Regions from separate parts of the Homo sapiens genome. Here all the other regions are linked to region 2. Evidence: fine-mapped expression QTL. A gene starts in region 2. Each other region holds a variant in brackets. All regions are shown on one strand. Distances are between the middles of the regions.

What was found. PIP is the estimated chance that this variant, and not a neighbour inherited with it, causes the effect.
Region 1: its variant is the best candidate, but not a certain one, in a credible set for the expression of CIPC in Th17 cells (Schmiedel 2018, PIP 0.87).
Region 3: its variant is the best candidate, but not a certain one, in a credible set for the expression of CIPC in esophagus mucosa (GTEx, PIP 0.82).

What each region holds. Positions count from the first base shown.
Region 1 is chr14:77,123,865-77,126,618 of GRCh38, reverse strand. No RefSeq gene overlaps it. Among named protein-coding and RNA genes, the nearest start is that of ZDHHC22, 17 kb to the left of the region's middle. RefSeq lists a silencer at 1,380-1,609. The variant G/C (reference allele first, on the strand shown) is at 1,416.
Region 2 is chr14:77,097,133-77,099,886 of GRCh38, reverse strand. It overlaps CIPC (CLOCK interacting pacemaker), which reads right to left and starts at 1,629. Exons shown (of 4, transcript NM_033426.3): 1 at 1,526-1,629. It overlaps LOC124903350 (a long non-coding RNA gene), which reads left to right and starts at 1,869. Exons shown (of 2, transcript XR_007064275.1): 1 at 1,869-2,011. RefSeq lists enhancers at 859-1,018, 1,158-1,987, 2,349-2,398 and a silencer at 2,019-2,168.
Region 3 is chr14:77,062,533-77,065,286 of GRCh38, reverse strand. All of the region lies in intron 2 of LINC02288 (long intergenic non-protein coding RNA 2288), which reads right to left. Among named protein-coding and RNA genes, the nearest start is that of LINC02289, 12 kb to the left of the region's middle. The variant C/T (reference allele first, on the strand shown) is at 1,320.

The sequences.
Region 1 (2,754 bases), 27 kb before region 2:
ACTGAAGTGGGGTTGTATGTGAGGGTACCCCCATGGAAGGCCAAAAAGCTGTGTAGGAGGGGACCAGGGGGCTGACCTGGAACTCAGAGAGGAGCAGAGCTGGCGCTGAGGCCTTCCAAAGAGGCAGTCCTCTGTGTGGGCTTCTCCCCAGCCTTCCTGTCCCCAAATACCCCTTTCTGGCTGGCTTGTGATGCCTGAAATTCCCCTACCATGAATGTGTCCTTCAAAATAGTATTTTGGCTCCCCAGGCCCTTTGTTTCAAATTCTGGGAGGTATTTGCCACCAAATACCTTGAAATGAGGCTGCCTTCTTTTTCTGATTGACAGCTGCGATGTGGCCAGAAGCTGTCTGAAGGGGTGATTTTAGGTAGAGGGGAGGGGAGAGTGGTGCCCAAGGTGTGAGGTACTCTGTGGGGAAGGAGGCCCTGCGGGATGTGGTGACCCTGGGCAGGGCAGGCCAGAGGGGCAAGGACTGAGGTGGCTGGGGTGCAGGACTGAGCAGGACTGCTCCCAAGTCCTCAGTCAGTAAGTGGCATCCTGGAAAGATCACACTGTGAACCCGGAGTACCCAGTGGTTCTGAATCCCTGCGTGACCCTGGGCGGGTCACTGCCCTCCGTGAACACTGGACTCGCTCTTAGACTTGGCGAGGATTGCACACACCTGGCCCTCAATGGGGCACATACCTTTTACTTTGCCACAGACTCCCCCAACCATTGCCCAACCCAGAGCCACCCCACACTCTACCCTTGGCTATCTGGCCCCTGAAGGCTTTGAGTTTGTGACCCCTGAAAGCCAAGCTTCAAGAGGGCTCAGTTTTAGTTCCGACTGTGCCCTGGATGGGCTGCGTGACCTTCCACAAGCCCCTGGGCCCCATTCCGCAAACCTTCCACGTGGCCAGCGTGCGGTGCGGGGAGATGGTGGTGGGAAGTGGGAATACGACTGAACAGCTGGAAAGACAGGGGAGGGGAACTGACATGAATTGGATGCCCCAAGCAGCAGAGGTCACCAGCAGCAGGAGAAGGACGGTTCTTGCGTTTGCTCAAAGACCTCAAGGATTGCTGTCTTGTTCCAGGTGGAAAGAGAGGGAGGAGACCTGGGGAAGGAAGCCAGGAGGCGCAGCTAAGGGGCAGCGCGGCCCCTCCACCTGACCCGCCGGCCGCCGAGGGCAAAAATTCCCTCGCAGGTGCCGGGTACTTAATAAACAGACTAGCAGGGGCGGGGGGCGACGGCTCGCCGGAGAAAGGATTTAATTAGCAACGCTTTCGGGAGAGAAAATTAAATTACAGGAAGCAGTGGTGCCGGCTGCGGACCACAAAGACCACAGAATCCCGAAGCCGATTCCTCAGACCCCTGCGCGTGTCGGGACCACCTTTCCATCGCCCCAGCCGTGGGATGAAGGCCGCGCAGCGTGGGGC[G/C]TCTGTCTGGGCTCCGGCTGCGACGCCGTCGCGCGTGGCCTCCCCGGCACCCGCCAGAGCCCGCGGCCGTGGCTCGGGCCCGCCGGGAGGGGGCGCCGTCGGGCCTCCGCGCTCCACTCTCCCGGCGCGCGCGCCCCGCGCTTGGCTGCCAGTGTTGGCTGCGCGGGGACCGCGGGCCGCAGCCAACCTGGGTCTGCCTCGCCTAGCCCGAAAGGGCGAGATCATGGGCCCAGACTCTTGATGCCAGCAGTGGTCTTACTCGAAACTCATCTAAGCGTAAGGTGAGGAGAATCGGCCTGATGAGTGGGCGGCAGGTAGTGCAGGACACTGCAGTCTTGTCCACGGCCCGGGCCCCGCGCATCACCGCGTCTCCGAGAGCGCGCTCCGAGCCCAGCCCCTCCTGGGAGGTTCTTAGCCCTCATGTGCCACCGCGGTCCAGGGACCCACCTCCTCTCTGTCTCCTGGCGGGTTTTCTATTTGTCACAATAGCGACCATTCCTGAGCTCCCGCTAGAACCAGGCCTGGTGAGTGAGTACTTAGCTTAGGGAAGGCACCAAGCCCTGTGCGGTGTGATTTTTAGCCCTGTTCGGCGGAAGAGGAAAAGGAAACGAGCTCAGAGAGGCTGAGAAAGTCGCCCAGGAACACACAGCTGGGAAGACATTGAAATCCACATCCCATTGGCTTCTGAGCTCTTCCCCAGCAGGGGAGCGCCCGTTTTTCATTCTCAGTCTCTAGCACAGAGCCTCGCACGTGGGTGCTCAGGAAGGATTTGTTGAAGGAACGGCAGATTTTTCCTTGTTTGTCAAAGGGGGTGCTCATAGCTGAGGGGTGTGAGGATTAAATGAGATGGTGTGTGTAAAACACCTGGCTGTGCACTTGGAGCACCGTGAGCAATTAGTAAAAGCTGGTGCCAGTGTTAATGAAACTCGACAGTGCGGGGAAACACTGGGGACTTTGGTAAAATGTAGATTCTGAATCAGCAGGGCCTGTGACTCTGCATTTCTCATAGGCTCCCAGGTGTTGGCGATACTGCAGATGACAGTTACTTCGCTGTGTGGAACTGGTCCCCACGCCTCCTCACCCCAGCCCCAAGTCCAATCCCCCACAAGGGACCCACTGCAATTATTCCCAGCTTTGTCTGCCTATCTGCAATCCCCTGAGGAGCTTTAGAGAATATCCATGGGGGTGGGGGAAGGCAGGTCTTTTCCCCAGAGTCTGACAGGTCTGGGATGTGACCTGTGCATGTTCAAAGCTCCCTAGAGGTTTCTGCTACACAGTCAAGGCTAGAACCGCTATAGGGGAGGTGTCCGAGGAAGGCAGTAAGTGAGCAGAGGTTTGA
Region 2 (2,754 bases):
CCCCTGCAGGAAACAGATATTTGATCTACCCCTTATTCTAAGTTGAAACGTCAGGGACAAATCCACCATCCAAATTAAGGGTTGATCTAATCCACAAACAATCTTTGTGAAGATTTGTCCTTATGATTAAAAAGGAGATCCAGGGTTACAAGAAAAGGATCTGAAATGCTGCTTTCAGATCTCTCCTTTTATAGACACTTGGCAACATTCCTGGAAGCTCAAGTTCCCTTTAAAATGTGTCACGTGTATAACATGTGTGCCTGGACAGAAGTGTGAGGTAAAAGCCCAACCAGAGGCTTAAATACAATAAAGTGATAAGGTCACAGAAAGAAAACCTTGAGTAATCCCCGTTAGAATTATAAATACATTACTAGCTTTTCTCCGAAGTCATTTTCTTTTGGCCTGCATATTCAGGGATACCATTCTGGGAGAATGTCTGGGTATCTTAACAGTGGAAAAACCCTGTCTACCTAAATGTCTAATATTCATCTTCCCTTCCACATTCATTCCATTTCTCCAACTTGGCTGAAAATTCGTGTCAAAGATCCTGAACCCCAATTCCATACAATTTCCTATGTTTTAGACCAGTTTGGCTCTATTTTCACCTTTCAAAGGGGAGATGAGCTTAGAGAACTTTCTCCGATCCCCTGCTGCAATTAGTTCACAGTAACAGTGCCCACCTACCCATTCGCACCAGCCCACGTTGCATCTGTGCCAGGCAGCATGTGCACCCTCCAGGCATCCACCAGCCTGCCAGCTCAGCAGGGCAAAACTGGGCAGACCCTAGTACTGTGCTGTGACTGGCATACCACCAGCCTTCCAGGGCAAACGCCCAGGCAATGCATACTGCCAGGACTTGAGCAATAACAGGGAGCCTAGCTCCAGCCTGTGACCTGGGCCGGGATCAGAGCTCCCCCGAACCCACCCACTAACCACTTAACTCCTTACTTGGCACTGCCCACCTTCTCCCCAGAAACACTACCCCCGACACCAAGCCTGGCAAGCTGGCCACTCAGGGGAAACAACCAGCAACGAGGGTGACGGCAGGTCTCTGGAAAAGGCAGCACACCTGTGCCCTGGAGCCAGAACAGGGTACCACCCCCGACCTCAAACCGGAAGCCCAGGACCCTCGCCCAGTTACTAGTTCTGGCGCCCACTCACCTGCCCATTGCTTGGCCCTCAGCTCCCAGCCGGGCTGGACTCCAAGCTCTCTCCCCGCCCAGCCGGCTGGCGGTTGCGCCCAGGGCTAGACCAGGGCCCACCTGCCCCTCACACAAGCCTCCTCCCCACACGCAGCCCCCTCCTCACCCGCGATTCCCTCTCCCACGCCCCTCACAGCAAACCAAAGCCCTGCTCCCACCATTTGGCTCTCCGTCCTCCGAAAGTCCCGGTTTGCCCCTCTTGCCTACTCGCTCCTCTTCCTCTCTCCCCTACTTCCACCTCCTTTCCCCACGCTCCTCGCCCAATCCCTCTCCCGCCGTCATCCCTGCTCCCCTCCTCCCGGACCGAGCCCTCCCTTTCTCACCTAGGGCCGGGGTCGCAGCTCCACGACCGGCCTGTGGGTCAGGTGGCGCATGCGCGAGCACGGCCCCGCGGCACCATGACAACCTCGTCGTCGCTGGGTGTCTCGCTATCCCCACAGCCTCCCGCCCATTTCTCCTCCCCACGCCTCCGCGACGGCTTTCGCCAGCCACGTGACCCGACTCGGATGACCCGGCACCATGGAGACCGCACGCTGTTCTCCTAGAAGGGCCCTTGGAAATGCGCCCTTTCCCCGCCCCCGCCGGAAGACCAGGCCGGCGCGGGGCGGGGCCAGCGCTCAGAGGCCTACGCTCTGTCCGCGGCCGGCGGGCGTCTCTATGGTTGGTTCCTCAGGCCTCGCCGCCATTTTGTACGGGGGCCTTGAGCAATGAGCGGCTTGGGCAAGGTTTCCAGGCGGGGTTCAGAGGAGCCGGGGGTGGGGCCGGCTTGGAGTCGATACAGAGAGAGGAGCGACTCTCGCACTGTCTTGGTGCGTGCCGCCGTGCCGCCGTGCCGCCGTTGGGGGTGGGGGCCGGGGCGAGTCGTGTCCGGCCTGTGCGCGTGCCGGGAGCGACAGTGCCCGGCGTGGGAGAGCGGGCGTGCGGGCGGCCTCAGCCTGGAGTCGCCGTGACAGGGGTGCCAGACCTCCCCGCGTGCTCCTCGCATTTTCTCTACGCCTGTCGCCCTGTTTGTTTTTTGTTCCCGTCCACCCTCGAGACCGTGCTTCACGAGGTCGAGGCGCGATGAGTTATTTTAAGTAGATGATTTCATGACCTTTGATGTTTGACTGACTTTGTCATGTGCTATGGGTTTTATATGGATGCTGTTTCTTGGTGAAGGTTCACGGTGAACACACGTGTGTAACAGCTAAAGAAAAAAAGGGCTTGGGATCAGTTGACGTTCTGATGCCTTGAATCAGTGAAGGTTACTTAGAAAAAGAATTATTTCGCTAGTGAAAAAGAGGACATGGGCGAGTTTAAAGAGTTGACGGGTCGAGGCAGATTCAAGAGCTGAGCTGTCCAGTAAGATGGTCACTAACGACTGGATAAGTTTCTCAGTTGTACTAGCCACATTTCAGGAGCTCAGTGACCTCTTTATTGGACAGTGCAGATTATATATAGCCCATTCCCAGCATCGCAGAAAGTTATATTGGACAGTGCTGATTTAGATAGTGGGGAATTGTTTTATACTGGTCATCCAGGCCTTTGTAAGTGCTGCTAGGTCGTGGTTAAT
Region 3 (2,754 bases), 35 kb after region 2:
GTTCCTTCCCATTTACTCTCCAAGAACGAGCCCTGGGCAGGAGAGCTGGACATTGCCTGGACCCACATCAAAAGGCTCCTGCTGTGCTGGAAGGGTCAAAGCATCCTAGGCCCATCCTGGCCTTGTGATCTGAGTCTGGGGCTGCGGTGGCCAGGTTGTCCAGTGGACACTGTAGAGGCAGCCTCGGGGTGAGAAGCCCCTCATGTGGACCCGCAGCAGGGGACATAAGTGGGAAGGAACCCAAAGGCTCAGGGGGAAGCAGGGGTGTCGCTACATCAAGTAAAGCTCCTTCTCGCACCTGCCAGCATGCTGGGAGGATGCTACCTCTAGCATCCTAGGGATGGCAGAAAGGGGCAAGCATGGCTCTGCCTCCTGCCTCTGTGCCTGGTGCAGGCTCCACTGTGGTGTGGGGTCTCTGGCAGTGAGGACTAGGCTACAGCCACCACTCTGGCCTGTGAATCCTAAAGGAGCCAGGGCATGACAGTCCCCACTGCCAACCTAGAGTCCCTCAAACTCTCTATCTAGCCTGGCACTGCCTCCCTCGTCCTGCCAGACCCAGGGCAACAGCTGTGACTCTCCAGGGCTGTGCTCTGAGGGAGGAGCCCTTCCATTCTAGAGATTGCATGGTTGCCAAGCCTACCAAGGGCCCAGCCTTCACTGCCCGGGGAGCCTTTGTTTTCTCCTTCCTTGTTCTAGAAGGAAGAATGGGGGCTAGGGGCACGATCATGTACTATACACCTCTTCTGAGATAGGATCCCAGCTGGTTTCCTGATACTTCAGCCCATTCACATTCCTTAACTGCCCTATAGATGAGGCTCACAGACATGGGAGTGATGGGGTGTGATTTGGCCACACAACCCAAAGATATGGAGCTGAGACCCATACCCAGGTCCTTCCATCCCAGGGGCCACTCATTCCTACAATGCCTCAGTGCAGGCTTGCTGCTCTGCAGGCTCAGAGAGGATGCTTACCCTTTACTCCTGGTGAGCAGAGAACCTAGCCACGGAAGGAAGCCCAAAGAGGGACAAGCTCCTGGGGCTCCTGGGGGCCCCCCAGCCCTCCCTGACCCTCCTCTGCGGGGGCTGCTTCCAGGGGTCTTCCTTGCTTCCCAGTCCTCTGCATGCTTCCCTGACACCTCCACTTATGGAGCTCAGACCCTGCTTGCTGGAGTCAGGTCAGCCGGGCCTTGACCCCGCCCCTCCCCTGCTTGTGGATTTAGGGGCCTTTTTGCTGGCATCACCCTGTCCCAGCCAGACCGGGAGGACCCCTTCTTCTAAGCTCTCAGCCCTTCCTGCCAACATCTTTTAGCCAAGATTCAG[C/T]GAATCAGCAAAGTCTGACGGTTAACATGGCTCCCATCCCAGCTCTGTCATCACTAGCCATGTGACCTTGAGAATGTCTCGGAACATCTGTCTCCCAGTTTTGTCATCTATAAAATGGGGATGCTAACAGCGATATTCCTAGAGCTGTTGCAAGCGTCAAACATACACATAATTGGAACAGCTCCCCGCTGTGGTTTGTGCTCTGTATATCTTTACTGTTATTGTTATCTTTTTCTTCCTCTGAGCTCCTTCCACAGGATGGGTTATTCTGCAGATCCATGACTGGAAGGAAATTAGAGTGGGCTGGATGGAAACCAGGCCGTGGGCCTGATGAAACTGCCATATGGTGCTTTGCTCAGAGCTGTATACAAGAAGAACAAGTTCATATGCCAGTTGGGTGGTGGTGGAGATTGGGGAGGGAAGTAACAAGGACAGGGCTTTGCATATGCTCTATTTTTTGCCCCCTACCTTCCCCTAAAGCCCGTGGCCTCCAATCCCCATTGTCTCCCTTTCCTTTGGGTCTCTGGGTCTCTGATCGTCTTGTGAAAAACCCCATGGAGAGGCGGGGCAGCTGGAAAGAGGAGGAAGTGAGATGGATAACCATGCTGTCTAGTGGCTGGATAACCATGCTGTCTAGTGGCTGGCGCCCTGCGTGTGCTCAGCTACTGGCAGGTTCTACTGTGGTGTTTAACAGTAACTGTGAGCAGGCTGGGTGCAGTGGCTCACGCCTGTAATCCCAGCACTTTGGGAGGCCGAGGCGGGTGGATCACGAGGTCAGGAAATCGAGACCATCCTGGCTACCACGATGAAACTCTGTCTCTACTAAAAATACAAAAAATTAGCCGGGCGTAGTGGCAGGTGCCTGTAGTCCCAGCTACTCGGGAGGCTGAGGCAGGAGAACGGCGTGAACCCAGGAGGCGGAGCTTGCAGTGAGCCGAGATGGTGCCACTGCACTCCAGCCTGGGTGACAGAGTGAGACTCCGTCTCACAAAAAAAAAAAAACAAAAAAAAACCAGTAACTGTGGGCAAAGCCAATGTGAGTCTCGCAAGCCAACTGTGGTTTGTCTTTATTTCTTTCTCTCTACAAGAGACCCTTAAAAAGAAAGTCATTCTTGATACAAAGCACTGGGAACCCTCACAGTTGGCCCTAAAAACAACCAATAGCTCCTTATCTGGCACATGTATATCTCTTTGTTTTCCCCCGCTGTGTTGCCCCTGAAAATACCATGTCTGTCCTGCTCGCCACTGAGTCCTGATGCACCAAGCATGAACTAACGATTGATCTGCACTTGTAGACAGGGTGATGGAGAAGGGATCTGCAAACTTGGGAGCTTTACCAGAGAGCTAACACCTGTGAAAGGGCCTCATACAGTGTCTAGCACATAGTAGGTACCCCATAAATGCCACTTGACTCTGAGTCTGGGGGGCTGTTTGG